7 separate regions of the Homo sapiens genome follow, and all the other regions are linked to region 1. The links come from fine-mapping of genetic effects on gene expression. A gene starts in region 1. Each other region holds a variant in brackets. All regions are shown on one strand. Distances are between the middles of the regions. Region 1 holds the start of GNAZ (G protein subunit alpha z). Region 2 overlaps RSPH14 (radial spoke head 14 homolog). Region 3 overlaps RAB36 (RAB36, member RAS oncogene family). Region 4 overlaps RSPH14 (radial spoke head 14 homolog). Region 5 overlaps BCR (BCR activator of RhoGEF and GTPase). Region 6 overlaps RSPH14 (radial spoke head 14 homolog). Region 7 holds the start of LOC107985554 (a long non-coding RNA gene).

Region 1 (4,000 bases):
GTTAGAGGAACACACAGGAAGACTTTTAAACCAGATGCCAGCATCTCCTCATTCCTAGAGAATGAGGCTTGCTCAAGGCGCATATTTTATCCAAGCACCGCCAGGCCATCCACACCCCCACTGCACCCCGTAGATGGATGCTCCCAGGCTGCCACGATTACTGCTCTCAAACATCCACATCCCAGAGGCACAGAGTCACTAGCTAAGCATCATCCCCGAAACAGGCAACTCAATCCTAACAAGGGGGTTGCCTGGGTGGTTACCCAGTGCCCTGGCTGTGCCCGAGGGAGAAGTGCCTGGAAGCACAGTCTCAGACTGCAAGGAGCCTTCCCCAGTCTTTAAAGCTAGCTCTTCTCCAGGCCCACCCCAGCTCATGGGGTCATGGAACTGCTTCGCTTTTACAGATGAGGAAGCCGTGGTCTCCACCATAGCCACAGTTAACCAGCAGTGGGGTCATTCCACTTCCCAGCTCCCTCAGCCCCGTGCAGCCCCCACCGGCCTTTCCCGCCATACCTCCTCCTACTCCCCAGGCATGCTAAGTGCTCCCATCAGACCTAACTGCCCAAGTGCCTCGGTCTATTCTCTCCTCTCTGCCCACAATGCCCAGCTTAGCTGTGCCCATGTCCTTCAAGCTCCAGTTCAAATGTCATGTTGCCCACGAGCTCACCTGACCCCCCAGCCCAGGACACCACTCTGAGGTCCCTCCCGAGGCCCCTGCACCTGCACTCAAGCGGGGTTGGTCGAGTAGAGACGTTTTCCCCTATGCGGTGGTCAATCAGTCCTGGGAGGGCAGGCCCAGTCCACTCCCACCCGGTGCACCCCAGCGTCAAGCTCTGGGGGAGTGACCACTCAATAAATATTTGCTTAATTGAATTTGGCCAAGGAGCCTTCTCCAGAGAGCTCAATCCCCAGGGCAGGGAAATCACTTGGGCAGAAAGGAGCCGGTCAGGGGCTCAGCTGTCTCCCCAAGCAAGACAGACCTCTCTACCAGGCGGGTCCCTCCACCCCAACACGGACTACGCGGAACGCTGGTCTCGCTTGGCATCATCCTCTTGTCTCAGTTAACAGGAGCCCCCATTCTCGGCCTAGGCCGAATCCTGCCATCATCACCCAGGAAGGCTCAGCACCGCCCTAAAGGCAGAGCCCCCTCGGATCGCCCGCAGGATACGGAGCGCCAGCCCTGAGGCCCTCACTCCCCTCCCCCAAACACCCCCACCGCCTTTTAAGGGAAAAAATATTGAGCCGGGAACGTATTACAATCGCAGCAGGTCGATACTCATCTCTTCCTCTAAATGCCTGTGAGGAACCTGCTCGCTGCAAGAGCAGTGACCGAGAACTGCTAGCTGTCCGTCTGCGGGCCCAGGTCCTCGGGCCCAGGCCTCTGGGGCCCTCTCCTCGGTTTCAGGCAAGGCCCTGCATCGGCTCCGGCCGCCCCTCCCTGATCCTCCCCCTAGGGAGACCCGCCTCAGCGCCGCTCCCGCAGCTCGCCTGGCCCGCCCGGGCTCCGCATCAGCCGCTGCTTGGGGGCGCCCGGCGGCCCCGCGCGGCATCCCCGGCGCCCTCTGTCCACCCTCCCGGGTCCTCAACCGCCCCCTCCCGCGGGGTCATCGGCTTGGCGGCGCATCCCTCCCCCAGCACCTGCCCGACCAGAGGCCGCCCCCTGCCCACCTCGCAGGCGTCCCCGCCCTTGGTGTCCCCCACCCCTGAGGGGCATCCCTGACGCTGCGTCCTGGCGGATCCGGGGCACAAAGGCCTGGGAAGAGTCCCAAGTGGGGGCAAGGTGGATGCCCCGGCCGTGCCCCCGACCCCTGAGGCTCAGCGGCGCGCGGCCGGCCGCGGGTCGGCTCACTCACCTCCGGGCCGCAGCACAGAGCATCTGCCGAGCTGCTCCGGGCAGGGCGGGGCGGGGCGGGGCGGCGAGCACGGGGCCGCGGCGCCCTCGTTCCGTACGACGCGGGCAGCGGCGCCCACGCGGGGACGTGACCGGACCGCGGGCGGCGCACACGCTCCGGCCGGCCTGGTTCCCTCCGCCCGCCCTCCCGCGCCGCCCGCCGCCCGCCGCCCGCCGCCAGTCCGCGGGTCCGCCCGCCCCGCGCCGCGCCGCCGCCGGCAGGGGGCGGAGCCGCGAGCGCAGCCCGTTGCCAGGCCAACCGCGGGCGGGGGGGTGCCGCGCGCCCGCCGGGCACCACGCGCCGGGCACCTCCGCCCCGCCACGAGCGCCGGCCCTCTGTCCATTGGGCACAGGCAGCTGACGGACGGGCCAGTAGCCCAATGGGGACGGACAGGGGCGGGGTCGCAGCTCCGCGCGCGCCGCAGTCCCGCAAGAGCTCCCCGCGCCGGCGTTCCACCGACTCCGCTGCGCTGAGGCCTGGTAGCCGAGCCCCAGGGGCCACCTCTGGCAGCCCGGGAAACCAAGCCTGAGCCCAGCCATGGTCCTGGCCCTCTTTACTGCAGCCAGTCCCGGCTCGCCTTCTCTCCACTCGGGTTCAAACCCAGTTCGGCCTCTTGTGAGCTCTACGTCCTTGGGCAACCGACTGACCTCTCTCAGCCTTTCTGTTTGCAAAGTGGGGCTAGTGGCACCTGCTTTCCTGGATTGTCTCACCAATCCTTCAGAACGTGTGAAAGGCCTATGCAAACCCTAACGATTTACACCGGTGAGGTTTGTGCAGCGATGGGAGGGAGCATTAGTCATCTCTGCCGCCGCCCCCCGCCGCCACCGCCCAGTGTCTAGGGGCTCTTTGGCGTCCCTGGCAATCCTGGCACACGGAAGGGTGGCCTTGGGAGGGAAGGAAGGGAGAAGGACCGAGGAGCTGGCCCCCAGCCCAGACAAGCGTGAGAGAGCCAGTTCAGTTAAGGCCACTGATTGGCGCTTTTGGGAAGCTGGTGGAAAGCATCAGACCCTCAGCAAAACGCAGCTGAACCCAGGCTGCAAAATTCTGTTTTCAATTTCAAAGCCTATCTGTGGACCTCAGGGCCAGGAGTCCCTCAGTTCCATGCTTAAAAGACTCTCAAGCCAGAGGGCCAAGACATGAATGCTCCTGTCTCTCTTCTCCATCTTTGTAAATCTGAAGCTTTGTGTATCCTAGAGCATCCCTGACAAAGTGCAAATGCCTTCCCAGCTAACGCGTTCCTTATCACCTCACACCTTTGTAAGGTGTGGATCATGCCATTCTTTGAGCAGCAGCCCTGGACCTGACCATGGCAGAGGTCCATGGAGCGGTCTCTCCATCATAGCTCTGTGGTGGAGGGGCAGGGGCATGTGCCTGGCTTTGCCAGCTGGACACTGTGGCATCTCAGCATCATCCCATAACCTCCCTAGGAATGTTTCCTCTTCTGTGAGATGGAGACCATTGCGTTACGTACCTGCAGGGTCATGGGCCACCTGTGAGGGTGCTGCCTCAACTGTCAGGAACAGGACGTATATTTGTTATGGGCATCATGGAGGCGAACTTAGTGCTCACTGGAGGTGTCCAGTGAGGACCAAGGGAATTCAGCCAATGGCTGAGGGGCTAGCTACCCTTTGTGCTTGCCTTCCACACCACCAGGCTGTGTCAGGCTGGACCTCTTGCCAGGAGGACCACACAGAGACCGGCAGCTGTGCTACCTGGCTGAGCCTCTGTTTCCTCTTCTGTCAAAAGGGAATGTAACAGACTGTGGTCAGAGGGTGGCTCTGAGGGTTAATGTTTATAGGAAATGCATATTAGCATGTCTTGGGATAGCCAGAGGCTGTTTCCACTGCAGAGTCTGGGGGTCAGAGTTGAATTGTTTGCAGAGGTAAGCCCACATGCAACAGTGAGATGGCCCTTTCCAGTGGTCCAGAGCAGAGGCTAGCCTGCGGAGGGGTCCACTGGGGCTGGCTGACACCTCCCTGACTTGACCTCAAAGTAAGAGAGGGACATCTCACCTGGCATCAAACCAATATTGTATTCATGCAGCAGTCACTTACAGATAGCCTCCTCCACCAGGGTATAGTTGTAGGCACAGTTCTAGGATTCAGACC
Region 2 (4,000 bases), 29 kb before region 1:
GGAGCCCAGTGTGCCAGCCTGGCCCTGCCTCTGGATCTGGTCAGGAGGCTCTGCTGTTCCAGGGTCATGATAACTTGAGGATGCTGCAGACAAACTGCATGTGGCCCTGGCACATTGCAAGATCAGAAGGAACTGCTTGGGAGACCTGTGTGTGTCGGGAAAAGGGCGGCAGGCCTTCTGGCTTGGAGCTATGCCCTTGACCAGGTCAGGAACAGGAGGCAGAGTGAGGCCATGTTCTGCTAGGGCTCCCTGTGGTCCTGCCACTGACTAGGCCAGGAGACAAGGGGACGAGGGGAGTGTCAACCTTCACAGCCACTCACCTCTCCCAAGCCCAGGTGTCACTGTCCTCCACTCTCCTGAGGGAAGGCTGGCTACACAGCAGCTCCAAGGGTGGAACCCAGTCTATACCCCCAAGGCCCTTGCTGGAGAACCCCAGCACCCACAGGATGTGGGACCAGTATGGTGAAGAGGGGGGCCACTGGAATTCCCAGGGGCCAGTGCCAGGACCCTCCCTGAGAGCCAGAGTCTCAGCCCTGCGGTATGTGAAGGAACCTCTCTGAGGCTCAGTTTCCTCATCTGCAAAGCCGGCTGGTTAGGAACACTAAAGGATATATAAGGTCCCTTCTCAATCTAAGCCCTGGTATGCTGGGGAGAGGGTATCATCTGTGTCTGGCTATTGCCCATTTGTAATTCCCTCCTTGGGCAAATATAACCAGCTCTGTCATCAATAGGTATAAGCCTGTCTTACTGGAAACACCTTGTTTCACCCACAACACGCCATTTTATGGCACAAATGTTTAAACTCCATTTTAAAAGCACTAAAACAAGCACCCTTTTTGGGCTAAATGATAAACCACAGCGCTAGGGTGGCAGGAACACGCTGTGTTCACAGGACGGCCTTGGGCAGCCCCTCCTCAGGGTACTGCATACACTCCTGTTATGGACGAGCACCCATAGGGTCTCCTTGGGAAGGGCTGAGTGTCCCAGCTGCTCTGCACCCAGAAGCCAGGGCTCTGGAGCTCCAGCTCTTCCCAAGCCTACCGCCTCCCGCCCGCTCCACAAAGTCTGCAGAGCACCCACTGTGTGCCAGGCCCTCTGCTCAGAGCACAGGCTGTGCCGGGTGGGTGTGGACCTGCCCTCGTGGTGTGCTGAGGCTGCTGACCTGCCCTGGAGTGGGGAGGGGTTCCTCAGGAAGCCAATGGCCCCAGGACAAGGGACCACTATCCAGGGCCAGGCATAGACCACCTGCCTGGAGGCTGGCTGCTCAAGCACTTGCCACCTGCAGAACTTGCCCCACAAAAGGCATGTTCTTATGTCCCCCGTCCCCTGGATACCCTCACTGATAACATGTTGACCAGCTGTCTCTCAGATAAGTGGCAGAGACACCAGGCCTCCCACGGTGAACCCTGCTGTGACCCAGCCTGCCTGTGGGGCCCAAGTGACTACTGTGGGTCCTAGATGAAAGCACAATGGGGACACTGCTGGGAACTGCTGCCTGCCAGCTCTAGAAAGACAGGGCAGGTATCCCTGGTAGCAGAGGCTTTGTGGAAATGAAGCTGTAGCTGGGCTGGTGTGACTGCCTCCTCCTTGTCCCCCAGTTCCCTGTGCTGCTGGGAGAGTTGTGCTCACCCTCATACTTGGCCCCAGCCTGAGCCTTGAGCCTGCACAGCAGGTCCATCACAGGTGCAAAACAGACCCGCCACAGGGCTGGGAATGCTGACAGCTCCGTCGGGAAATGGGCAGTGAGCTCCCTGTGGGTTTCCACATGAGAACATTTGATGCTTTACAACTAGACCTTTTAATCTTGCCTTCTGAAGGATCCCACACCATTTGGTGGCCAGCAGAGTCCATTAGCTGATCCGCAAGGGCAGAGGTTGGGCAACAAGTGCCCACCTACCCCCTCAGGTGCCTCCAGTGGGGCCGAGTGAAGACCCAGGCTCTGCTGGTCACAGCCACCTGTGTCTGTCCCTCAGTGTGGGCTGGTAGGTGCCAGCTTCTCCACTTTGCCTTTCCCTCCTAGGGCAGCAGAGTGACTGTCTTTGCTGACTGACCCTTGTGTGAATGTACTAAAGACGAGGGGCAGAGCCTCTGCCATGGCTCTGGCTAAGTGGGAGGCCCGTGGTGGGTCCTGTGACACATGGCCTCTCAGGAGCTGTCCTTGTGGACTTGAGGGCTGGGGGCCCGCCAGCGCCAGCTGTGTGCCTGAGCCTCAGTGCCTCGATCTGTGACAAAAATAACAGGCGCTGCTGCCCCACAGGATCATTCAGGGGACAGGTGCGCCAGAAAAACCCCCTTGTGTTGCTGGGCTGTGTTCAGGCCTCCTGTGCTGCCTGAGGAAGCCCCAGCTGGGTGTTGGGCTTGGGGGCACTGGGGTGCCTGACACACCTGCAGGACTTGGCCCTAGTCAGGGCAAGGGACTGCCAATTCCTTCGGACGAGGGTGGGAACCGTGG[C/G]CATGGAGGGGCGTGGCTCCCCATGTGGCTCGCTGCCATGCTCCACAGACACCCGGAAATCTGCCTTCCCTGCTCTGAGGTGCTGCCCTGCACTCACTGCAGCCCTCACACCCGGGAGCCCAGAGACACTGACGTTCTCCTTGGCAACGTGCTGACGCAGAAGCCAGCGGGTGGGCCGGGGGGCTGTGGCTCCTTCGCCAGGCGTGGGGGTGGGGAGGCACTGCCAGCATCAGGGAAGATGAGGCCTTGGAAGCTGAGCACGGAAGGAGGGCTATGGAGGAGCCGTGTCCAGAGCCCTGGCACTGGGCCCCAAGGTTCATTCGGCTTTTGTGAAAACGAGCATGGCCTGTTCTTGGCTGCCTTGCCTTTGACAGGGCCCAGGGAGGACAGTTCAGCACGTTCCAAAAGGAGAGAGCAGAGTGGCAGCCCTGTGCCAGCCCGTGCCAGCACTGGCTCTGGCCCTGGCCCGGCTGGAGACGGGCTGTCCTCACTGCCGGCACCACTCTGGGGGCCAGCTCACCTCCGGGGCCAGCCCAGCCTGCGGGAGGAATCGCGGGAGGGGATTGTCTTTCCTCTGCAGCCTGTTTGTTTTCCATCTCCAGATATTACTGGTAGAGCATGAAAGGTCAGAATCATTTGGAATCCAGTGAATTTCCAGCCTCGCTTGGGTTTCTCATCAAGAATTTCCTTTTCTGGTGAACAACCACTTCCCCAGGCCTGCAGAAACCAGGGTGATGGTGGTGGGTGTGCCAGCCTGGCTGCCAGCCCCTCCCTTTAGAAAGTGCCTTGAATGCCTGGAACCTCACAGGGATCCCTGAGACCAGGCCAGTGGCTGCTGTCCCTGCCCATGGCTGCCCACCATGGCTCTCCCCAGGGACAGGCCTGGGAGAGGGAAAGCTAGAGATGTGAGGCCCCACAGGGGCCACCCAGCCCATCTAGGGCCTGCCCCGAGGAGCTCACTCACACATCACTAGATGGAGGAGTAAGCAGGTGCCGGGCTAGGTCAGAAAAGGCCTCCCAGGAGGCGCCACTTGGGATGAGACCTGGAGGATAAGGGCAGGGGTACGAGAGGCAGGGATCAGGATCATTACAAGCTTAAGGCTGGACAGAGCAGTACTGCTGGAGCAAAACAAGCTGACCACGGCTAGAGCAGAAGGAGAGGAGAGAGAGGCAGCAAGGTGGCAGGCACAGGCCAGTAAGAGCCAAGAGGGCTGCAGGCAGGCAAAGGCCTAGCCTTGGGCCCATCTGTGAAGACACCTGGGTCATCTCCTCACTGACAAGTTCAGAAAGCAAACATGACAGCCAAAGCCCTCCATGAAAAACTGGACTGACTCAGGACCCAGGTATCCTGCCTCCTGTGTCCAGCACACCTGTGGGCACGGCCTGTCAAAGGATGCAACTGGGAGCCAGGCCTGGTGCCCGGGGAATTTGCCACGCCTGCCACTGTGGTGATGGGTGAGGCCAGTGGCGCAAGCCCGTGTGACTGGCAGACCCACCATGGCACTGTCCCAAGGGTCTGGCCTGAGCACCTCACTTTGCCTTGCAGCT
Region 3 (4,275 bases), 93 kb before region 1:
ATGAGGCACAACTGTCCCTGGCCACCAAGGAGAGCCAAGCACAGGATTGTTCCCCAGGCAGGTGTAAGTTTCGTGTGGTGGCATCTGGGTCAGAGTGCAATCTGTCTGCTGGGAACATGGTCTTGTTTGAGCAACCTTCTTGCTTCCCTGCCTTCTTTACACATCTATTGAGCACCTACTGTGGGCCCTTCCTCCCAGAGGTGCTAGGGGAGACAGTAGAGGTGATGAGGTCACTGTCCTGGCTCTTGGGGTTCCACAGATGGGTGGGGGAGAAAGCCCAGATGTGACCAATCACACTCAAGGTATCAAGTGCTGCGAGAGCTGTGGGGGTGTCCACAGAGGCCTCTCTGGGAGTAGGGGTGTCCCAGCCGTTGGGCACAGAAGAGGGGTCTGGCATCTGCAGACTGCATTGTGACCAGGGATGAAACTGGAGCACAGGGGCCTGTGGGGGTGGGGTGGGCTGGGTGGTGAGGAGCCTCGAAAGCCAGAGCGAGAGCACCCTGGGACCTAGCCCTGGGGAGCCAGGAAGTGACAGGAGAGGACCTGCTTCAGGTACGTGTCTCCAGCAGAAGAGACAGGTGAACGGAAGGACACACAGATGGACAGAGAGCAGGAAAGGGTCCAGGGAAACAGGGAAGAGGAAAAAGGCGTTTCGGCAGCACTTGGACGCGGTCACTGTGGTCATTGCCGCACCTTGGCTGCAGGGGGCTGCTTGCCTGGGCCCACAAGACCAGACCAACAGAAAGTGCCTCTGCCCAGGAAACTTACTGCCCGATGCTGGGAAAGAAGGAAATGTCTTCATTAAATCATCAAAGTGAGGGTGCGCAAACCACCCTGAAGCAATTCTGACCGAGAAGATGCTGCATCAACTTGGGGTGGGGGGACAACTGAGCCCCTTGCGTTTCCGTGGCGACCTTACTCTTCTGTCCTCCCAGGCCAAATATCAAAGTTCGAGAGGCCACAACTATGTCAGTCAGGGTGTGTGGGAATCAGCTGGCACATTGCAGGAGGTAATATGAGGACGATTTAATCAAGGACCATTTACAGAGGTGGGGGTGTACGTGAGGCAGTACAGCTCTAGCTCAGAAGCTGGTAACAGCTGGACACCACACCCACCCCCGCAAACATATCCTGGAGGCCCGAAGGGGCAAGGGAAGGGAGCTGTGGAGAACGACAGTCCACCATGGGCAGGTTCTCCCGTCCTGTGAAGCTTATGCCCAGCAAACCTGGTCTTCCTAATGGACCCCAATGCTGTCTGCCCGACCACAGGCTGCATTTAGTGGACCAGGCTGGGGGCCGCAGTCGGGAGAAGGGCCTTCCTGAGTACGCAAAGCTATAACTACAAGAATGGCCACTGCAGCACCATTGGCAAGAGCTAAAAGCTGGACACAAGCCGGATGGCCCGCGGATGGGGAGGGTCAAATGAACTACAATCCATCCACATGAAAACTGGGCGCTGCTACAGGAAGGAGGCTCCTTGTGTGCCATCAGGGAGAGGCCTTGGCGCCAGCTCCCTAGGAAGGCAGGCTGCCAGGCAGTATGTCCAGAAGGAGCTCACTCTGGTGAAAACAACAAACAAGCCATCAACACTAGCTGTGCAGGCAAAGGCACAGAGTCCAGAAGGAATAGTCCTGACTGTTAGCAGAGCTAACAGTCTTTCCTGCTCTCTGTCCATCTGTGTGTCCTTCCATTCATCCATCTCTTCTGCTGGAGACACTTCAGGGGCGCAGCTAATGTGGCGGGGGGGGGGCTTTCACCTTGTATTTTATATGCTTTGTACTGTCTTTGTTCACACTAAACATACAACCCCTTTAAAAGTCATTTATGGAGGCCGGACGCGGTGGCTCAGGCCTGTAATCCCAGCACTTTGGGAGGCCGAGGCGGGCAGATCACGAGGTCAGATCATCGAGACCATCCTGGCTAACA[C/T]GGTGAAACCTCTCTCTACTAAAAATATAAAAAATTAGCCCGGCATGGTCACACGTGCCTGTAGTCCCAGCTACTCGGGAGGCTGAGGCAGGAGAATGGCATGAACCCGGAAGGGGAAGCTTGCAGTGAGCCAAGATCGTGCCATTGCACGCCAGCCTGGGTGACAGAGACTCCATCCCGCCGCCCAAAAGAAAACATAAAAATGAATAAAATCATTTATGGCCGGGCATGGTGGCTCACCCTTGTAATCCCAGCACTTCGGGAGGCCGAGGTGGGCAGGTCACCTGAGATCAGGAGTCCGAGAGCAGCCTGACCAACATGGAGAAACCCCATCTCTACTAAAAATACAAAATTAGCCAGGCATGGTGGTGCATGCCTGTAATCCCAGCTACTTGGGAGGCTGAGGCAGGAGAATCGCTTCAACCTGGGAGGCAGAGGTTGCACTGAGCCGAGATTACGCCATTGCACTCCAGCCTGGGCAACAAGGGTGAAACTCCATCTCAAAAAAAAAAAAAAGTCATTTATATAAAAAACTACAAAAAATATGTTGAAGGGGGAATGAATAGAAAAAGATGCCAGTGTTCTTCCCTAACTGGTATTTGGCAATCGCTGAGCTGAACATTTACAGGGCAGCTGCAGTGTGCCAGGCCCTAGGAGAGCAGTACTGATCAGAAGGCTGCCTGCAAGGTGCTCGCCATCTACGGGAAGCAACAGCACGAGACGGGTGGGATGAGTGGGCATAGCCAGGTGACAGGGGCCTGGGGCTGTGGGGCTGGTTCATAGCAGTGAGAAAACCCTGTGGATGAGCATACTGGGCAGAGAGGCTGGGGAATGTGTGGGGTATTTCTGTCTGCTCTGCATGTGCAGGAGGCGGTGTTGGAGACAGGAACATGCTAGACTTGGCAGGGCCTCTGAAGTCCTCTAAAGGTGCATGGACACCATTACAAAGGTCCTAAGAGATGTATAGGCCAATGAGAGAGGGATGGAGAGGCAGCAGTGGGCACAGGCCCAGCATGAGTGCCAGAGGAGGGCAGTGCCATGTTCAAGGGCTGCAGAGTGAGTTACCCTAGGACAGCTGTGCAGTCTGCCTCCCGCAGCACACAGGTAAATGCACTGTCCAGGTGGGCCAGAAAGGCCTGAGTGGTTGTTCTGCACATCCTGGCCCACGGACCAGGAGGGCAGGACCTAGGGATCTCAGAGGTGCCAGAGATAGCCCTTCAGCCAGAACAGGTCTAAGAGACATTTTGTCCATTGTCCTCCAGAGGTGCTGGTCTGCCCAGGAACCTTGAGCATCCGTGGCAGAAGGACAGTGAGGCCTGAAGCTCTGAGACCCAGAACCATAAGTCCTGCTGACAACAGAAAACTCCCAGGGGGAATGGCAGGTGGCCTCTCCTTCAGGTGCTGACTTTGACAAGTCCAGGTTGCCTGGAACACTGTGACGGATCCTGGGGACACATCCAAGATCGCTGGGAAAGAGTGCAGGGTTGACTGCTGATGTGGGCCATGGCCGAGTAGTATAGACCGACGCAGGAGTTTGCAGTTCTGAGGCCTCTTGAGGCCAAAGGTGACTGTCTGATGACCCTGCAAATGGACTGGCCTTTTATGGGATCACCACAGTGCCTGCACTGGCCCGGTGGTGTGGGGCTCCCAGGCAGCCAGTGGGGGCCTTTTCTAGTGCCCAACCTGCAACGGACAAGTGACTGTGCCCTGGAGCTGAGCCCGGTGGGTGGGTGGAGGGACTGGAACATGGGCCTACAGCTTGAGGGCGACACGCTGCAGAGCTTGGGCTCCAGTCTCCACACCACAGTCACGGAAATTCCTGTCCGTGTGTGTGCAGGGAGCGGAGGCCTTCCACGCAGGCCCCAGTTAGCAGCAGCCCAGGCTGGAGGGCCTCTTGCTCTCCTGGGTCTCGGGCGGACTCCCTTCCATTTCTGTAAGGAGGGGAGAAGTAATTTAGCATCAACCAGGAATCCTGTAGCTGACACTGGGCAGGGGATGCCGGCCCTGACAGTCAGAGCTGTGAGCTGAAGCTTCTGGGCCTGCTGTTCAAGGCCTGAATGGCCTGACACAAGCCAAGAGAGGGCCTTCCAGGCACTGGAACAGAGAGGGCAAAGGTGCAGACTGGGAGAGCCGGGGCCAGGACACATCTGCAGAGCCTGGGACGCCCAGCCTGGGCTATGAGGACCTCATGGATGCCCATGAGGTCCATGTGTCAGGAGAACAGGGAGGGCTAGGGAGGGTGTCTGACCTGGCAGGTGGAATCAGAGGGGCTACAGGCCTGAGGCTGCAGTGACACCCTGAGAGGAGGGTCAAAGGACAGGAGAGGGCCACAAGTTCAGGAAATGGCAA
Region 4 (4,000 bases), 24 kb before region 1:
AGTCAGCTGCGGCGATGCGCTCCAGGTCGTTCAGGTAGTAGGCCGCGTTGTCCTCCAGGTGGTACTCGCTGGAGCGGCTGAAGCAGGCCTGTGCCCCTGGGTCGGCCCAGAGCCGTCGCATGACACCCAGCAGCTCGGGTGTGATCTCGCCCTTGCTCTCAGCGGGGCCCGTCAGCGCAAAGAGCTGCACAGCGTCGTAGGCGCGGTCGGGGTTGTGGAAGTCGATCCTGAGGGCGGCCAGGGCCCGGATGATGCGGGTCAGCGAGTCGATGGCATTGTAGATGATGAGGGGCTTGTACTCCTTGCAGGCCTCCAGGTTGAAGCCGCCGCTGTGGATGATCTTCATCTGTTTGACGATGGTGCTCTTGCCTGAGTTGCTGGTGCCCAGCAGGAGCAGCTTGATTTCGCGGCGTTGCCGCTGGCTCTCTGAGCGCAGGTGGCGGTCAATTCTCCGGGACCGCCGGGCTGCTTCTTTTTCCTCTGAGCTTTGCCGACATCCCATGGTCTGGCAGCAGCGGGCCCAGACAAGGAGCACGGGATGGGGCACCTCTCCCTCTTGCCACAGGGGACACTGAGACCAGGCAGACAAGAGCCCAGCTGCCCTGGAGGCACTCAGTGCCAGCAGGGGGGTGAGGCCGAGCCACACTGCAGCCCCTGCCCCAGCGCCTCTTCTCCAGCCGGCATGGCGCTCTGTGCAGCGGGCGGTGGCCGCCCCTCCCCACTAGTGACACTCCACCTCCCTAGTTGGCAAAGTGGCCTGATTTGCCGTAGTCATTCCCTGTCCTCGGCGACGGTGGGAAGCCGTCCGCTTGTGTTTGCCTCGGCTGCTGCCGTCTGGTTGCTGGTTGCTGTGGCGATGTTGCTGAGTGGCTGGAGGGTTGGAGGGCCGGTCGCTGGTGTGCTCCCTGCAGCCCCCCGCCTCCGGCTCCCACTGTGCATCCAGCCCTTCACCTGCCAAACACAGAGAAAAGCGTGAGCCTCCTCCCCGCAGCCCCACCTCAGGCTGGACAGTGAAAGGGAGCTCTTCTGAAAGCAAAGCAGCAGAGACTGGCCTTGGAAAATGAGCCGGCAACAATCCATCCAACCCCCTCTCCTCCATGGGGCGCTGTAGGGCCCACACCATGGTGTAACACATATGTCTGCTGTTGCCTGGACAGTCCACCTGAAGCCAGGTGCATGAGGGAGAGGAGGGTGTGTGCGAGGCCTCTGCCCACCCAGCCCCCATGCTGGACTCACTTCTACCGCATCCAGTTAGGATTCAATAAGGTCACCCTGTTGTGATGCCCCCTGGGGCCCTTCTCCCAGACAGCACTGATAGAGCTCAGCCTTGCCCTGTTTTACACGGGTGGCCAGGCCTCGGCCCAGCCCTGGGATAACTGAGCGCCTCCCTGACTCTCATTACCCCCGCAGGAGCTGGGTCACTTCTGATCACAGGGAGGAAAAGCACCAGGAGGGAGACCTGGCCCCTGCTTTCCCTTGAGGGCACTCTGATGGGCCAGCCCAGGAGCCAGCAGATAGGCAGGGACCAGAGCAAGGTGGAGGCTTCAGGCTGTGGGAGCACCGTGAGGTGCCTAAGCACAGTGGGCAGGGGCTGCCTCACTCCTGCAGAAGGAGGTAGAGGGGGGCTTGGGCTGAGACCAAGGAGCTGGGGGCTGCACGTGGTGCTGCGGGGAAATCCACCTGGGAGACCAGATGTCACAGTGGCTCCCAAGGGTAGTAGTAATCACCGAGGCCAGGGCAAGGCAGGGTGGCCTAGAGGCCTCAGGCAGAATCTTTCACCAACCCCGCGAGTCAGG[GC/C]CTCCCCATCCACCTTTCCTGCCAGCAGGGAGGGGCACACCCTAGGATGCCCCTGTGACTTTGCCGGGTGCTTAGGCCAGGCCTCCCCACACGAGGGGCAGCTCAAAGCTCAGGCTTCTTCCCCGGCTGTGAGCCCAGGGTGGCACCAGGCCCCACCCAACTCACACGCACCCCTCTTGCTCCTTCCCTGACCTATGTCCCTGTCCGGAGACCCACGCAGCCTCCCCATCCTGCCACAGGCAGCATTCGCCCCTTTAATACCACCCATCAACTCTGTGACAGGCCCTGGGGTGGGAAGGCCCGAGGCAGAGAGACCCCAACAGCCAAGGCCCCACCCTCAACTCCTGGGTGTGACCAGCATCTGAAACTCAACCTGCTAAACCCTCAGCAAATGGCACTTCATCCTCCCAGCAGCCATCCGTGCCCCTCACTGTCCCTTGCCCCTCACAGACCTTGACCACTAGTCCTGGCGATCCTGCTTTGAAGCAGGCCCCTGGTGGGCTGTCCTCTCCCTGGGCAGAGGTTCTGGTCTCTCCTGGCAGTGGTGGTGGCCTCTCACACCTGCTCCCTAGCCCTGCCAGCCTCTGACAGCCAGAGGCTCTAATGCCGCCTCTTTCCCTTGGTCAGACCCTGATATTACCCCCACCACTCTCAGGGTGGTCTCATCCTTCATGCCTTGCTTGCCTCTCCCAGGTTGTGTGGCCTCTGGCGACTTACTCCCATCTCAGAGCCTGTCCCTCACTGGCCACAGGTATCTGTGAAGAGTAAAGCGTCCAGCACAAGCCTGGTCCTCAGAGAGTGACAGCCAGTAGCAGTCACTGCCCTGCTGTGCTTGTCGCTGTGAGCGTCACCTTGCCCTCTGTCCTCCTCCTCCATAGCAGCCCTCAGCTAATGTGTGACCTACATGACCTTGTGTGCTGCCGTCGCCCCTACCCCCAGCCAGAGTGCGGGTGAGGAGGGCCCGTCCTGGCCTCGTTCCCCACTGGGAACAGAGCAGTGCCCAGTGCACAGTGGGTGTTCAGTAAGCACTGGTTGGTGGAAGGAGGGAGGGAGGGAAGGAATCAATGGAGAGGCTGAGGAACTTTCCCGCTTCACCAGGCAGCCACCGATGAGAAGTGCACCAGGGAACGCCCTAGAAACATCTCTGCCAAGAGGGCAGTGATTAAACAGTCACTCAGCCCAATCCCAGTGAGGCTGAAAATTACATCTGAGAATGGAAGCCTTGAGATGACCCTCCCACTCCAGCACACAGTGGGCAGAACATCTGCTTAAAGATGACATGTACATGATATGTGTAATATGCACACGAACCATGAGCGCATGGAGGATGGAGACCCTGTGGCTGCTCCCTTGTCCCTGCTGACGACCTGACAGCCCCTTAGGTGTGGAAAGGTGTCCAAAGCCCTCAGCCCACTGCCTGGGGACCCAGGGTTCTCCCTACCAGCACCATCATTCCAGCAGGAAGCCAACATGCTCCTTTCAGAAGGCAGTGTCCAACCCAGTGGGAGGTGTCCTCTGTTGTCATGACTGTTCTTCTCAATTCCACGTTTGAAAATCTGAGGTACAGCCAGGCGCCCCTTCTGTCCCCAGTGGTGGGCAGAGAAGCTGCTCTGTCCAAGGATGTGTGATTTGTGCTTTGGGATGTATGTGCTCCCTGGCTCCAAGGCTGGGGAATCAGGAGAGCAGGTTGGGGACACTGGGCTGGCAGCCTGGGCCCTGAACTGCTGTTGTCTGGAAGCCTGGAGCTAAGGGCTGCTCATGCAGTCTTCGATCAGTGTGCGCCGGCAACGACAGGGCAATGTGCAAGGAAAGGGGAAACTGAGGCCAGGTAGCAATCACATGCATCAGGGCCAAGTCTGTCACCTGCATGGGGCAGTGACGAACAGTCACAACCAAGGGGAGGTCCCCTGCTTGAGGACCCTCGTCTTTCAGATCACCTGAACCAAACAAGCAGAAGGCCCCACCCAGAATTCTCCCTGCGGCTCTGTGGGGCTGTGTTGTGTTTGGGGGTATGAGCGCCCTGTGCAGGGGCACCACGCATGGGACAGGGCTGTGCACGGATGTAAGGAAGCCTTGCGTTGGGAGCCTGGCTGTGGTTCAAATGGGACCTTATGACAGTCCCACCTATTCTGAGGCTTGACTTCTTGGCTCTTACACAAGGCTCTAGCCAGCCCTCTCTCTGAGTCTAACCCGGGCTTTACTG
Region 5 (4,000 bases), 190 kb before region 1:
AGGGAGCAAGAACTGGAACAAATTAAGTGCCTTCTGTGTTCCTCAAGCCTTAGCTCTGGCCTGGAGTCTGGGGGTCTGCAGCACAGGGTGGCAGAGGGAGGGGTCCCCCTACAGGAAAGCCACACCTCAGAGCAGAAAACTCAGCCCCCAGCACCAGCCAAGGGGAGGCCCGAGGCCAGAGCTGTGTGTCTCGGTAGTCCAGAAGTGCTGGGGGAAGGGCTTTTAAGGAATCACATGCTCTTCACACTTAGAGGGGGGCCTGGCCTCTGGCCACACCTGCCCCTAGAGGACTTGTTTCCCAGCGGAGGAAGCCTGCTTTAGGGAAAGTGTGTGCACACAGGGTGTGATGGTGCACACAGGGTGTGATGGCGCACACAGGGTGTGATGGCGTGCACCTGTAGTCCCAGCCACACACAGGGTGTGGTGGCGTGCACCTATAGCCCCAGCTACGCGGAAGGCTGAGGCCGGAGGATGGCTTCAGTCAGGAGTTCTGGGCTGTAGTGCACTACACACTAAGTTTGGCATCAATATGGTGACCTCCCAGGAGTCGGGAACCATCAGTTTGCCTAAGAAGGAGTGAAACAGCCAAGGTTGGAAAGGAAGGAGGTCAAAACTCCCGTGCTGATGAGCAGTGGAATTGCGCCTGTGAATAGCCACTGCACTCCAGCCTGGACAACGTAGTAAGTCCCCATCTCTTTTTAAAAATAACTATCTAAATAAATATAAATTAGAAAAAAAAAAAAAAAGGCTGGGCATGGCGGCTCACGCCTGTAATCTCAGTACTTTGGGAGGCTGAGGCAGGTGGATCACTTGAGGTTAGGAGTTTGAGACCAGCCTGGCCAACATAGCAAAACCCTGTCTCTACTAAAAATGCAAAAAATTAGCTGGACGTGGTGGTACACGCCTGTAGTCCCAGCACCGGCCCTGGGTTACTCACCAGCTTCTGGAAGAGGTCGCCCACCCGCTGCTGGTGGCTCCACTGCTGCACGCGGGGGAAGAGCCCATCATAGAACTCCTTGTGGATCTCGTAGAGCTCAGGCACTTTGAAGAAGATGGTCTCGATCTGCTGACTCGTCAGCACCGGCTGAGAGGTGGTGGCAGCGGCTTTCAAAGGCTTCATGGGCTGGAAGAGGGCACAAGTGAGGTAGCACAGGTGAGAGGGGCTGCCATCCGTCAGGTGCATTGTATGGCAGTAGACAGTCATGGTTACCTGACATATGCACTTTTATTTTTAAATCACATAACAAATACAATTTTAAAACCAGCTTGGTTTGGCAACTCAGTCTTCCACTGGTATCCACTCCAGGGATGGCGAGCTGCACCCAGGCTCTGACAGCTGACCTGGGACTTAAGGGCAAAGAGGCTCCCCAACCCTGTCACCCTGCCCCATCCCGCCCTGCTCAGCTCCCTAAATCCTCCTCACCAGCAGCAGTGCCTCCAGGTGGCTCAGGTAAGTCTCCTCGCTAGCCAGGATTCCCGACAGGACCCATTTTCTCATCTCCAAGCCCTTTTCCAAGTCCAGCTCACTCTGCAGGAGAAATAGACAGAAGTCAGCCTGGAAGGGTGGTAGGGGGATTCTTCCATCAGGGCCCTCTGAGAGAGGAGGGCCAGCTTGTTGACCTCTGGACAAACCCCTGCCCCCACAAAGGCTCCACATGGAATTAAAGGGAGGCAGGGGACCCTCCGCACATACTAAGCCACACACTCACAGTCACTGAGAATCCCGGGGAGGGGGGTCATCTGGCAACACCAGGGCCACCCTTACTCTTGCCAGACCACGAAACAGAGTTTGGTGCGGAGCAGGCTGGGCCAGGCCTCCCTCCACGCTTCTGCATGCAACCCAAGGGCAGCTGCCTGACACAGTCAGGGAAGGAGAAGGAGGCTCTGACCTGAGGGGGCGTCAGAGCCCACAGCATGGCCACCTGGCTTCTGCTGCAGCCAAACTCCACTCCCCACTGCTCACCTGGGGCCCGCCTCACCTGGATTCTCTGACTGCTGCCGCCACATGACCCTTCGATTGACGGGGCCCAGGCAGCACCGCCTTCTCCAGATGCCCTCCCTCCCAGCCACAGGGACTGCTACCATCTGCCCCAGAAGAACCCTGTCCCTGGGGCTCAAGGCCTGTGTCCCCTGACCCTGCTTTTTAGACCCTGACATCACTGGACTGGCAGGGACCCTCTTACATGTGGGCTATGACAAAGTCCCCCCTTCTCATTAGCGTCCCTGCTGAAAGTTCAGGGAAGCT[C/T]TACTGTTTTTGTCTCCAAATGATGAAGCTGACACATTGTTGGATGTTGATGTAGGGGACAGAGCCCATGCCCCTGGGAGGCCACCTTCTAGTCCTAGTTATGATAACATCTCCCCTCCCCACTCAAATTCACGTGGAAGCCCTAACCCCCAGTACCTTAGAACGTTACCGTATCTGAAGGCAGGGCCTTTAAGGTAAACTGAAGCCAAAAGGTTCCATATGTCACATTCTTTTTTGTTTTTTTTGAGACGATGTCTCACTCTGTCGCTCAGGCTGGAGCGCTGTGGCACAGTCACAGCTTACTGCAGCCTTGAGAGCCCAGGCTCAAGTCATCCTCCCATCTGAGCCTCCCAAGTAGCTGGGACCTCATGCACCCACCACCTCGCTCTGCTAACTTAAACATTTTTGGGGGGTCCAGGCTCAATGTCTCACGCCTGTAATCCCAGCAGTTTGGGAGGCCGAGGCGGGCAGATCACCTGAGGCCAGGAGTTCGAGATCACCAGCCTTGGCCAACATGGTGAAACCCCGTCTCTACTAAAAATACAAAAATTAGCCGGGTGTGGTGGCGGGCACCTATAATCCCCACTACTTGGGAGGCAGAGGCAGGAGAATTGCCTGAACACAGGAGGGGGAGGTTGCAGTGAGCCGAGACCATGCTGTGGCACTCCAGCCTGGGCAACAAGAGCGAAACTCCATCTCAAAAAAAAAAAAAAAATTTTTTTTTTGGTAATAGAAACAAGGTCTTGTCATGTTGCCCAGGCTGGTCTCAAACTCCTGAGCTCAAGCGGTCCTTCTACCTCAAACTCCCAGAGTGGTGGGATTACAGGCATGAGCCATGTTACCCCACCAGGACTGGGGTGCTTGTAAAAGAAGAGGTCAGGACACAGACTCAAATGGAGGGAACATTATGTGAAGACACATAGAGAAGACAAGCCCAGGAGAGGGGCCCGAGAAGAAACCAACCCTGCCCACCCCTTGATCTTGGATTTCAGGCCTCCAGGACTAGGAGAAAATAAACTCCTGTTCTTTAAGCCCCCCAGTCTGTGATGCTTTGTTACAACAGTCCCAGCAAAGGCATGACACCAAAGATGATGATGCCAAAGGCCACAGAAATCGCCACCTGACTTCCTGGCCACTCCCGCCTACTCCCTGGCCACTGGCAATGTTGGAGGCTGGCCATGCCCATGGCAGCACCTCAGTGCTCCACCGGGCTGAGGCCGTGCTCCCTTTGTTCCGCCTGTGCCCAATGGCCCTGCCTGCAGTCAGAGGAAAGTGTGTGGGTGCGGGGGGTGGGGGTGGTGCCAGGTCCGGTGTCTGTGACAGCCCCGTCCACTTCTCCACTGGTTGCTGGGCTCACAGGCGTGGAACTGGGGCGGTGGTCCCTGATCACTCACTTTCCCACTTTCGGGGAAAATCACTGGCTGCGGGCAGGCTTCTCGTTGGCCCCGCTGACATCTAGGCCCGGAGGAGTCTCTGTCAGGGGCTGGGTGGCATCCTGTGCCTTGCAGGATTCTGTGCAGCATCCTTGCCTCTACCTATCGTATGTGAGTAACACCCTCTCCCCCGAGGTGTGGCAGCCACAATGTCTCCAGGCGCTGCCACACATGCCCTGGGAGCAGAATCACCTCCAGTGAGAACTGATGGGTTTGAGGAAGGATCTGACTGAGGTCAGCTCAGGCCTCATGGTATCTGTAGAATTTGGAATCAGGGTCCCAGCACAGCCCCTGCCTACTCCCAACCCTGCTGTCCTATTTC
Region 6 (4,000 bases), 44 kb before region 1:
CCCAGGGACCAGGGACTGGGCCGGGTGGGAGGGACACTGGCCTGCTCTGAAGCGCTCTCCCTCCTGCACTGCAAATGTCCTCAGGTGCCCTGTCACAGGCGCGTAGCCACGTCATCCCCTCACTGCACTTCTGGGCCCCTCAGGCGGACAGGCCAGCCCTTCATGACCCAGGTGTCTTTTTCCCTCTGCACCCGCAGCTCCACCTCCAAGTTACTCCTCGTTCCCACAACTCACTGTGCCTCGAGTAGGCCAGTGGCCCCCAGAAGGCCCCTCAGCCCCTCACCTGGCAGCCTGTTGCCCTGTGCCCCTCAGTGAGGAGACGGAGGTCATGGCAGCTTCACGAAGCAAGGCTTACCCAGGCAAACGCACACACAGACGTGGTCCTGGGCACGTGGTGAGCACATGACAGAGGCTGGCACCTGTTTGACTGTTTTGTTGTTTGCTGTGGGACCCCAGCGGCCTCAGGGCCCATCTGGCACATGCGCGGCACCTTCCTGGTGTGCTTGGCCTGGCCCAGGCCCTCAGCCAACCGCACTGCCTTGTCATCTTCACACAGGGCCCAGGGGGTAGGGGGATCAGGGTGGTGATTATGACCACCACCCTCCCCTTGCACAGATGAAGGAATGAGTAACTCTGCTAGGAAAACTTGAACAGAATTTCCTGAAGTGAGCAATCATGTACTGTGCTTCAAATAAACTGAGGTTTAGAAAATAAACTGAAAAAGACCCAGTCAAAATGGCTCAAACATGAGCCCCGGCCCCCAACTTCAGGTGGGGCCCCTCCATTTGCAGGGGTGGCCAGCAGTGCTCAGGGCCTCATGCCTGCTTCACGCATCTTCTGCCTTAGGGGTCACCGAGGCATCACTGAGGTGTGGGAGGCCACCCTGCAGGGTCACCCCACCTTCCTGTTCTAGGAAGGGGTATGTTCTGGGCCTCCTCCTCGCTCCCCTCTGGGCAACCCGAGACCCCCTCCAGGAGGCCAGACGCACTCCCAGATTCCCATGTCAGCTCCCAGCAGGTAGGCAGTCCTCAGGGACACTGGTCTTGTCCAACCCCTTCCCAAACCCTGACCCTTGCACACACCCCAGAGATGGTGGGACCGTCACCTCCCTACTCTGGATCCATGCAGCCCCAAATCACACTGGTTTGGGGGCAACCACATGCAAACACCTACTCAGGCTGAACGTACACCATCAGCTCAGAGCCTTGTCACATACCTCAGCCAGGTGAGGGGCCCCCGGACTGTGTTGTATTGGGGAATAGGTGGGTGATGCCAGTGTGATATGGCCACATGGCTGGGGAAGGCTCTGTACTGACCCATCTGGTCTCCCTGTCCACTCACTCTCCACTAGGTCCCTTACTCCACAGGACCCCATGCAGTTTGCTGTGGCCACAGCACAGAGCAAGGCCAGCTGGCCCAACTAGGGGCCTCAAACCTCACATAAAATGCACGTGACATTAAGGTTTCAGCTCTTCCTGGAACCAGCATCATCCCTGGGACACAGATGACCTGGAACCCCCAGCCCTGCCAGCTTCTGAGATGCCTTCATGGCAGTCCCCACTGCCCTCTCCCTTTCCTCACCTCCCTGGGCAGAGGCTCTCCAGGTGCTCTTGTGTGAGGGATGGAGGCAAGCAGACAGCCTTGCTCTCAACAAGGTGGGTGAGGACAGGCAGGAGGGAATGCTGGAGCCGGTGTGGCAGCTGCGGAGTGGCCAATGCAGGCCCAACCTCCTGCTCTGCCAGCTGTTCTGAACCTGTCCCCCCTCCAAAAAAATAACCACACACACACAGAATATGTAAGCATACTTCCCTCGTGAGGGGGCTGAGGGCTGATGTGGGATACACATGGACAGCTTAGTCCCCACACCCAGGCACAAGTGACTGTGAGCAGCTGGCACTGCTGCAGATAGTGCTGGCCAGCTACAACTCTGACAGGTGACACACCACAGGAATGCAGGGGGCGAGGGGTAATACAAGAGCAGGACGTTTTGACTGGACCTCTGGGGGCTGAGGGGAAGGGAAGGCATTGCAGGAGGGGCTGGCAGAGGCACAGAGGCATGGGGATGCAGCCGCATTGCTGGGAAGGGTGGGGCCGGGGCCGGTCTGTCCCACCCTGGGCCTCAGTTTCCTCATCTGTAGAGCAAGTCCTCAGTTCTGTTACAGACTGAGAAGCTCAAGTCAGCCCACTGTAGAAAAGCTGGGAGTGTTCATCCGAACC[G/A]TGAATTCAGCTTTTTCACGCCGAGAGCAGAGCTGTGGGGCGGGGTTGTAGACATGAATGCGCTCCATTCACCATGGACAGGCCAGCCCTGCGGCCACCCAGCCTGCAGCTGAGCCACCAGGCCTGACCAGGGCCACCGAGTACCAGGCTCTGAGGGCAGCACCCTGACTGAGGGGCCGAGGCAGAGGTTTCATACAGAGATGAGCTTCATGCTGTCACCTTTCACAAAGTACCGGCCAAGCCTCTCACCCCTCTGGGCCTCCCTTTGTGGTGGAAGCTTGGGGACACCTTGGTGGGGCTGCCTGTCTGCTGGGCAGGGTGTGGCTGGAGGGACATGGGGCACTGCTGACACAGTGACCAACATGCCTCCATCGGTAGCGGGTGCCTGCCCTTGGCTGGCACTGACTGCCCATCTCCATTTCCCAGAGCTCTGTGTGACAGGCCTGGTGGGCAGGAGCCTCTGCAACCTGCCTGGGCCATCCTGAGTGCTGCCGAGGGGGTCTGGGACACAGGCATTCCCAGACTTCTCTAGTGGGGAGAGGGCGAGTGGGCCCCACCATCTGATGATGCGCCGAGGTCCTGGCAGGTGTACCGAGTGGAGGGGCCTGTGGTGTTGGCCCCCTGTGCTAGATGCCTCTGCAGCTGTGGAACAGGGAAGGCACCAGAGGAAATCCACTCCAAGGATGGTATCAGTCGCAAAGGAAATAGCTTATTCGCTTGCAACCCCGTGCTTCCCCAGCCAGTCCTGGAATCCTCATCAGGAATTCCTGAGTTCACTTCCCTTTTGGGGAAGCTTGTAGGTGCAAGCTCTTGGCCTACATCTACCCTCAGGCCAAAGGGGTATGGGCAGGAGGCTATCCGAGACAGCTCAAGGTGGTGGCAGCAGCTGGGAGCCAGTGTGTGAGGGGTTGATGGGACTATGAAACAGGGAGGCGGTGCTGGCCAGAGTGCTGGGGTGGGAGCCGGGGTAAGATCTGTGGGAGAGAAGGATGCTGGGACCAGCAGGGCCTTGCCTGGGCACAGGGCCAGGTGGCGCTGGGGCCCCAGCTGTTGTAAAGATGCAGTTTAGCCAACGTCAGAACACTCAGCTGTCTTCCCAGGGGAGTTGCAGCCACAGCAGGCACCAAGTCCAGCCAGCTGTCTAACATGTGTCTTCCTGGCCAGGGTCAGCCGCAGGGGCAGGGTGCTAGCCTGGAGGTGAGCCCTGTGAGGTTCCAGGCAGAGGGGGCTGCTATGCTCAGAGCAGGTCCCCTTCTTCTGGTAAAATGGGCCACGTCAGACCTGAAAGCTGGATGTTCCTATCAGAACGCTCCCTGCTCCTGGTCTCTTGGCTGGTATTCCATGGCACAGCACAGCATGGGGTAGCTCTGCCCAGCTGGAGCTGTGGGGTCCCCAGACCAGGCCCCTGCCTTCCTGATGGGTCCACACTGGCCACCTTGCTCCCTGCAGCCAGGTCCCTATCCCCACTGAGGGTCTTCTGTGCTTCAGGATCTGACCTTGGTGTCCGTCTCTGGCTTCTCCTGGCCAGGCTCCCCATTGCAGCCAGTCTACAGGTCGCAGCTGCATCGTGCTTACCTTGAGCACTTGCCATTCCCACCCCGCTGGTGTTTGTCCGATGCTCCATTTCTCAGGAAGTGGCCCTGTCCTTGCTGGAGAAGGGGGTCTCCCTGCCACAGTCCCACCCTGACTCCACCAGGAGCTCAGCCCAGCCTCCTGCTAAGTGTCCATCTCGCCCTCCTGCCGTGGCCACAGACCTGCTGTGTCCAGGGCTGTCATACCCCTG
Region 7 (4,000 bases), 220 kb before region 1:
ACTCATGTGTTACCAGCCTTCACTGTTCTGACAGCTCCAGTAGCTGGGGGAGACCCCCACTTAGAGGGAAAGGAAAAAAAAAGTAGTATCCATCCAGCTCGACAGAGCAGCCAAATCTGCTCTGCTGTGGGGTGAAGGTGCACTGCTGACAGCCCTCCTGGCTTGGACCCCACACTCCCGGGCACCCCTGGGGATGTCTGTCAAAGTCCTTGCCAAACCCCTGCAATTACTCGATCCACCTGCAGGGGGCAGCTCACCAGCTCCCAGGATCTGAGACAGGCTAGGGGAGAGGGCAGAGGCCACTCCGGGAAAAACAATTCCACACCCAGAAGGCATCAACCAGCACAAACACTCCACAGCGGCCAGGGTCAAAGGTGTCCCGTGGTCATCTGAACAACCTCCCTGTTTCCCCACACCCTGCCCGATGAGTCCTTCCTGGGTGGAGACCCTGGCTCGGCCGCTGCAACCCTCCTCCCCAAACCAGTACTTACTTGAACTCTGCTTAAATCCAGTGGCTGAGTGGACGATGACATTCAGAAACCCATAGAGCCCCGGAGACTCATCATCTGCGCAAGAGATCAAAGAGGTCAGCTTCTGTTGTCCCGGGAAAGGGAGGCAGGTGACAAGCTAACTCTGCTTCAAAATCAACCATCCGGTGGACACTGTGTGGCTGCCATCTGCCTGGCACAAGGTAAGCCAGTGTCATGGGCCAAAAACATACTCATCATGATTTCTGTCTTGGGGATCTCAGGATCCAGCTGGTTTCACAATACAGGCAAACCAGTGACTCGAAGTGTAATAAGGTTCCAAGGACAGCAGAGGGGGTCGGGGTGATGTGGGATGTGGGTGGGGTGTGTGTGGACACATGTGCATAGCGTATGCTGTGTGTGTGACTGAGCATATGTGCAACAGTGAATGCAAAACAGCTTGACCAAAAGTGCCGGCTGGCAGGTAGCTGGAGGAGAGGAGGGCTGGGAGGACGGGAGTGGGGCCAGATCCAAGGCACAGAGCATCTGAGGAGCGTCTGCTGCAGCCTTGTGACTAGGAACAGAAGCCGTGCATCTCCTCAACCACCCAGCAGCAGCCACTCAGGGAGAAACTGCTCCTAACCCACCTTGTCCACTCCTGGGAGGAGACAAGAGGCCCTAACAAGCATAGCTCTTCCTTCTGAACCAAAGTCCACTAGTCCCATCAAAAGTGCTAACAGGAAGGGGGGATCAGCCTTCAGGCTAGCTGCCTGCCCTCCCTGCAGGTGCCCTGTACACGGAAACGGGGGGGCCCACCTTCCTTATTGATGGTCAGCGGAATGCTGTGGACAGTCTGGAGTTTCACACACGAGTTGGTCAGCATCTGCAGCTCCACGGATGTCAGGGAGAAGCTTCTGAAACCTGGGAGGTTGGAAAAGAGGTGCACCAATTGGTCAATCTGCTCCTTGGCCCTCTGGCCCCTCCCACTGGACCTCCACCACACACCCTGGGGAAGGGGCACGGCAAGAACTGGTGCCAGGGCTTGGGGGCTCAGGAGAGGGCACTTGGCTCTCAAGTGCAGTGCTGGTCTGGCGGCAGAGTGAGGTGTGGCCCTGGAGAGCCCAGGCCTGGAGGAGTCTTAGCATGAGACTTACAAACACACACATCCCACGCTACCTAAGCACAGCCACAAGGCAGGTCTGAGAATGAGTGGCTGGACTGGGAGCACCTCCCTGTGAGGTCTCCCCATACAGACAGCAGCATGGCTCTGCCCGTCCTCTGCTAACACAGGCCCCCGTTTCTCCACCAGGTGAGGAAAAGGGGCTTATTTCTGGGCATAATGCTGAACAGGGAACAGAGGCTGCCACTCTGGAAATGGCTGGGGCTCCTATGTTATGACAGGAAACCCTGGGACACAAGCACTGGCAGGGCTGCCCGGAGATCCTTGATCCCCCAGGCCACGGTGGCATTGGGGGCC[G/A]AGAGGTGGCTCTGCATAGGTGAGAATGATGAGCCTGAGGGCGCGGGAGGTCAGGCCAGGCCAGAGGCATGCAGAGCCCCAGCTCAGGGTGAATCCCAAACCTCCAAGGAGGGAACCGGGTCTGCCTTCCCCACCGACACTGCCAGGCAGGACCCGAAGGAAGGAGCGCCCTGACAGAGGGAAGTGCCCAGAGAAGGAAGGGGCTGCCCCAGACAGGAGGGAGCGCCCCTGAGCTGAGAGCGGGCAACCCCGGCCATATGAACAGGGCAGTGGGGCCAGCACAGTGTGAATGCCCAAGTGGGCCCAGCCAAAGGCCCCTTTAGCATCAGCACCTGCTGGGGCAGGGAAGGCCCAGGGGGCGGGGAGTAGATGAGGAGAAATGGGGGAGGCCAAGAAAATGGGGTGGTGGCAGGGTCCCAGAAAGGACTAGGGGGCAGGCCGGGGGTGCGGTGTATGGGCAGCAGACTAGGGGGAGATGGCAGGGGTGTGTGTAGGGGCAGGTGTGGAATCTGGAAAGGGCCTGGGGAAGGGGGATTCACAGGGGATCACAGGGCAGTGGGGAAATGAGTGCCCAGGTGATGGGGGCAGGATAGGCTGGCAGGGGAACAAGAGGGCTGGGGGCCTATCGGGATGGCTGTCGCCAACTTCTTTTCTAAATTAGCCCTCCATGCAACACTTCACTTGGATAAAACCCCTCGAAATAAAAAAGAAGGTTTAAAACCACAGGAGCTGCCAGCCTGGCCCTAATGGTTTGAAGCCCAGCCCCTCTCAGGACAGAGGATACTCACACTTCTTCTGCTGCTCCCGGATGTTCTCCCTCCACTCTGCACGCTCATAGTCAGAGGAGATCAGGAACGTGTAACTCTAGGGTGGGCAAGAAGAACACACCCAGTTATCTCCGCCCTGGCTACGCAAATGCCTGGTAGGCCCGGGGCACCTTAGAGCACACAACTCGTATCTCCAGCCGGCTGGAGCCCAGTGGCCAGGTGTGCTCACGGCCTGGCATGTCGCTTCCGGCACTCCCTACCCTTCCTGCCAGCTGGGTGCCACAGCACCTCTGGCACACCATCTCTCACCCGAACTACATGGGTCAGGGTGTGATGCTGGCAGAGGGGCACAGCTTAGGGACATGGAGGTAACCAGGTGGGATCTGCAGAGGTGAACGTTGATCCAGACCTGACCTCCTGCATTCAATTCACAAGCCCCACACTAGCCCAGAGGTGAGGCTTCTGCAGAGCCCACCAGCTGCCTCTCCTGGTCAGGCTAGAAAACAAGCCATTCTGGACATTGACAGACATGTATTGACAGGAGGGAGAGGCCCAGGTTACAGATGGCAGCAGGAGCCAGACTCAGGACAGAAGGTGTGTCTCTGGCCCTCAAGGCCCCAGGACAGCATCCCTGTACCAAGGGCCAGATCTGCACAAACCTGCTAGGCTCCCCTGCCCTATACCCTCCCTGGAGACCCTGTCCACTCCCAGCTGTGGGAGCTGAGCCAGCTGCCACTCAACCTGGGGGCTACAGCCCAAAGCCCCAGACAAAGGAATGTGCGTGCTTGCATGCACCATGCCGGACATGCCTCTCTCAGAGTGGGGCGCATCCAAGTGAAAACGCACTGCCATTAGGCAACCAGGAGCCCATCCCAGGCCAGGAGAGCAGGAGGGGCCGGAACAGCAGGCGCTCACCTTGCCGTTGCGGCTGTGCACCCTGAAGGCCATGCTGGGAGACATAAGCAGCAGCAGTGACTCCTGCTCCGACAGCTTCTTCTTCAGCCTCTCCGTAGCCTTGCTGCCCTTGTTCGCCCTCTGTGGGGAGATGCCACAGCCTCACCTTCCCATTCCAGCGCTCCACACAACCCACTCCCATTCCATCCATCCCCACCACCAGCTGCATTCAGCCTGCAGAGGGCAAGAATCCCATCTCTCCACTCAGCACAGACCAGGGCCCCAGACCGCAGTTGCTGGTGGCCTCTGGAGGACAGAAACAGCTTTTTTACAGGGTCAAGGCATGGCATAAGCTGCAGGACATGCTCAGTAAACCTTTTTTGGAGGAATTAAGT

What was found. PIP is the estimated chance that this variant, and not a neighbour inherited with it, causes the effect.
Region 2: its variant is fine-mapped to the expression of GNAZ in whole blood (TOPMed, PIP above 0.99). The same link has a PIP of 0.9 or more in caudate.
Region 3: its variant is fine-mapped to the expression of GNAZ in whole blood (TOPMed, PIP 0.96).
Region 4: its variant is fine-mapped to the expression of GNAZ in substantia nigra (GTEx, PIP above 0.99).
Region 5: its variant is fine-mapped to the expression of GNAZ in whole blood (INTERVAL, PIP above 0.99).
Region 6: its variant is fine-mapped to the expression of GNAZ in whole blood (INTERVAL, PIP 0.99).
Region 7: its variant is fine-mapped to the expression of GNAZ in whole blood (TOPMed, PIP 0.97).

Annotation. Positions count from the first base shown.
Region 1 is chr22:23,068,424-23,072,423 of GRCh38, reverse strand. GNAZ (G protein subunit alpha z) reads right to left here and starts at 1,905. Exons shown (of 3, transcript NM_002073.4): 1 at 1,854-1,905. All of the region lies in intron 4 of RSPH14 (radial spoke head 14 homolog), which reads left to right. RefSeq lists enhancers at 1-323, 324-1,204 and silencers at 1,811-1,950, 2,091-2,230.
Region 2 is chr22:23,097,781-23,101,780 of GRCh38, reverse strand. All of the region lies in intron 4 of RSPH14 (radial spoke head 14 homolog), which reads left to right. The region is part of intron 2 of GNAZ (G protein subunit alpha z); the gene reads right to left. Among named protein-coding and RNA genes, the nearest start is that of GNAZ, 29 kb to the right of the region's middle. RefSeq lists an enhancer at 1-386. The variant C/G (reference allele first, on the strand shown) is at 2,453.
Region 3 is chr22:23,161,082-23,165,356 of GRCh38, reverse strand. It overlaps RAB36 (RAB36, member RAS oncogene family), which reads right to left. Exons shown (of 11, transcript NM_004914.5): 11 at 1-3,857. The coding sequence ends at 3,793. It also overlaps a transcript of RSPH14 not described here. Among named protein-coding and RNA genes, the nearest start is that of BCR, 17 kb to the left of the region's middle. The variant C/T (reference allele first, on the strand shown) is at 1,927.
Region 4 is chr22:23,092,198-23,096,197 of GRCh38, reverse strand. All of the region lies in intron 4 of RSPH14 (radial spoke head 14 homolog), which reads left to right. It overlaps GNAZ (G protein subunit alpha z), which reads right to left. Exons shown (of 3, transcript NM_002073.4): 2 at 1-951. The coding sequence starts at 502. Among named protein-coding and RNA genes, the nearest start is that of GNAZ, 24 kb to the right of the region's middle. The variant GC/C (reference allele first, on the strand shown) is at 1,797.
Region 5 is chr22:23,258,478-23,262,477 of GRCh38, reverse strand. BCR (BCR activator of RhoGEF and GTPase) reads right to left here. Exons shown (of 23, transcript NM_004327.4): 3 at 1,424-1,528; 4 at 938-1,123. It also overlaps the pseudogene RN7SL263P. Among named protein-coding and RNA genes, the nearest start is that of LINC02556, 66 kb to the left of the region's middle. The variant C/T (reference allele first, on the strand shown) is at 2,246.
Region 6 is chr22:23,112,484-23,116,483 of GRCh38, reverse strand. All of the region lies in intron 4 of RSPH14 (radial spoke head 14 homolog), which reads left to right. All of the region lies in intron 2 of GNAZ (G protein subunit alpha z), which reads right to left. Among named protein-coding and RNA genes, the nearest start is that of RSPH14, 28 kb to the left of the region's middle. RefSeq lists an enhancer at 2,797-3,700. The variant G/A (reference allele first, on the strand shown) is at 2,218.
Region 7 is chr22:23,286,905-23,290,904 of GRCh38, reverse strand. It overlaps BCR (BCR activator of RhoGEF and GTPase), which reads right to left. Exons shown (of 23, transcript NM_004327.4): 11 at 3,627-3,746; 12 at 2,733-2,808; 13 at 1,284-1,388; 14 at 492-566. LOC107985554 (a long non-coding RNA gene) reads left to right here and starts at 377. Exons shown (of 3, transcript XR_001755448.2): 1 at 377-691. The variant G/A (reference allele first, on the strand shown) is at 1,945.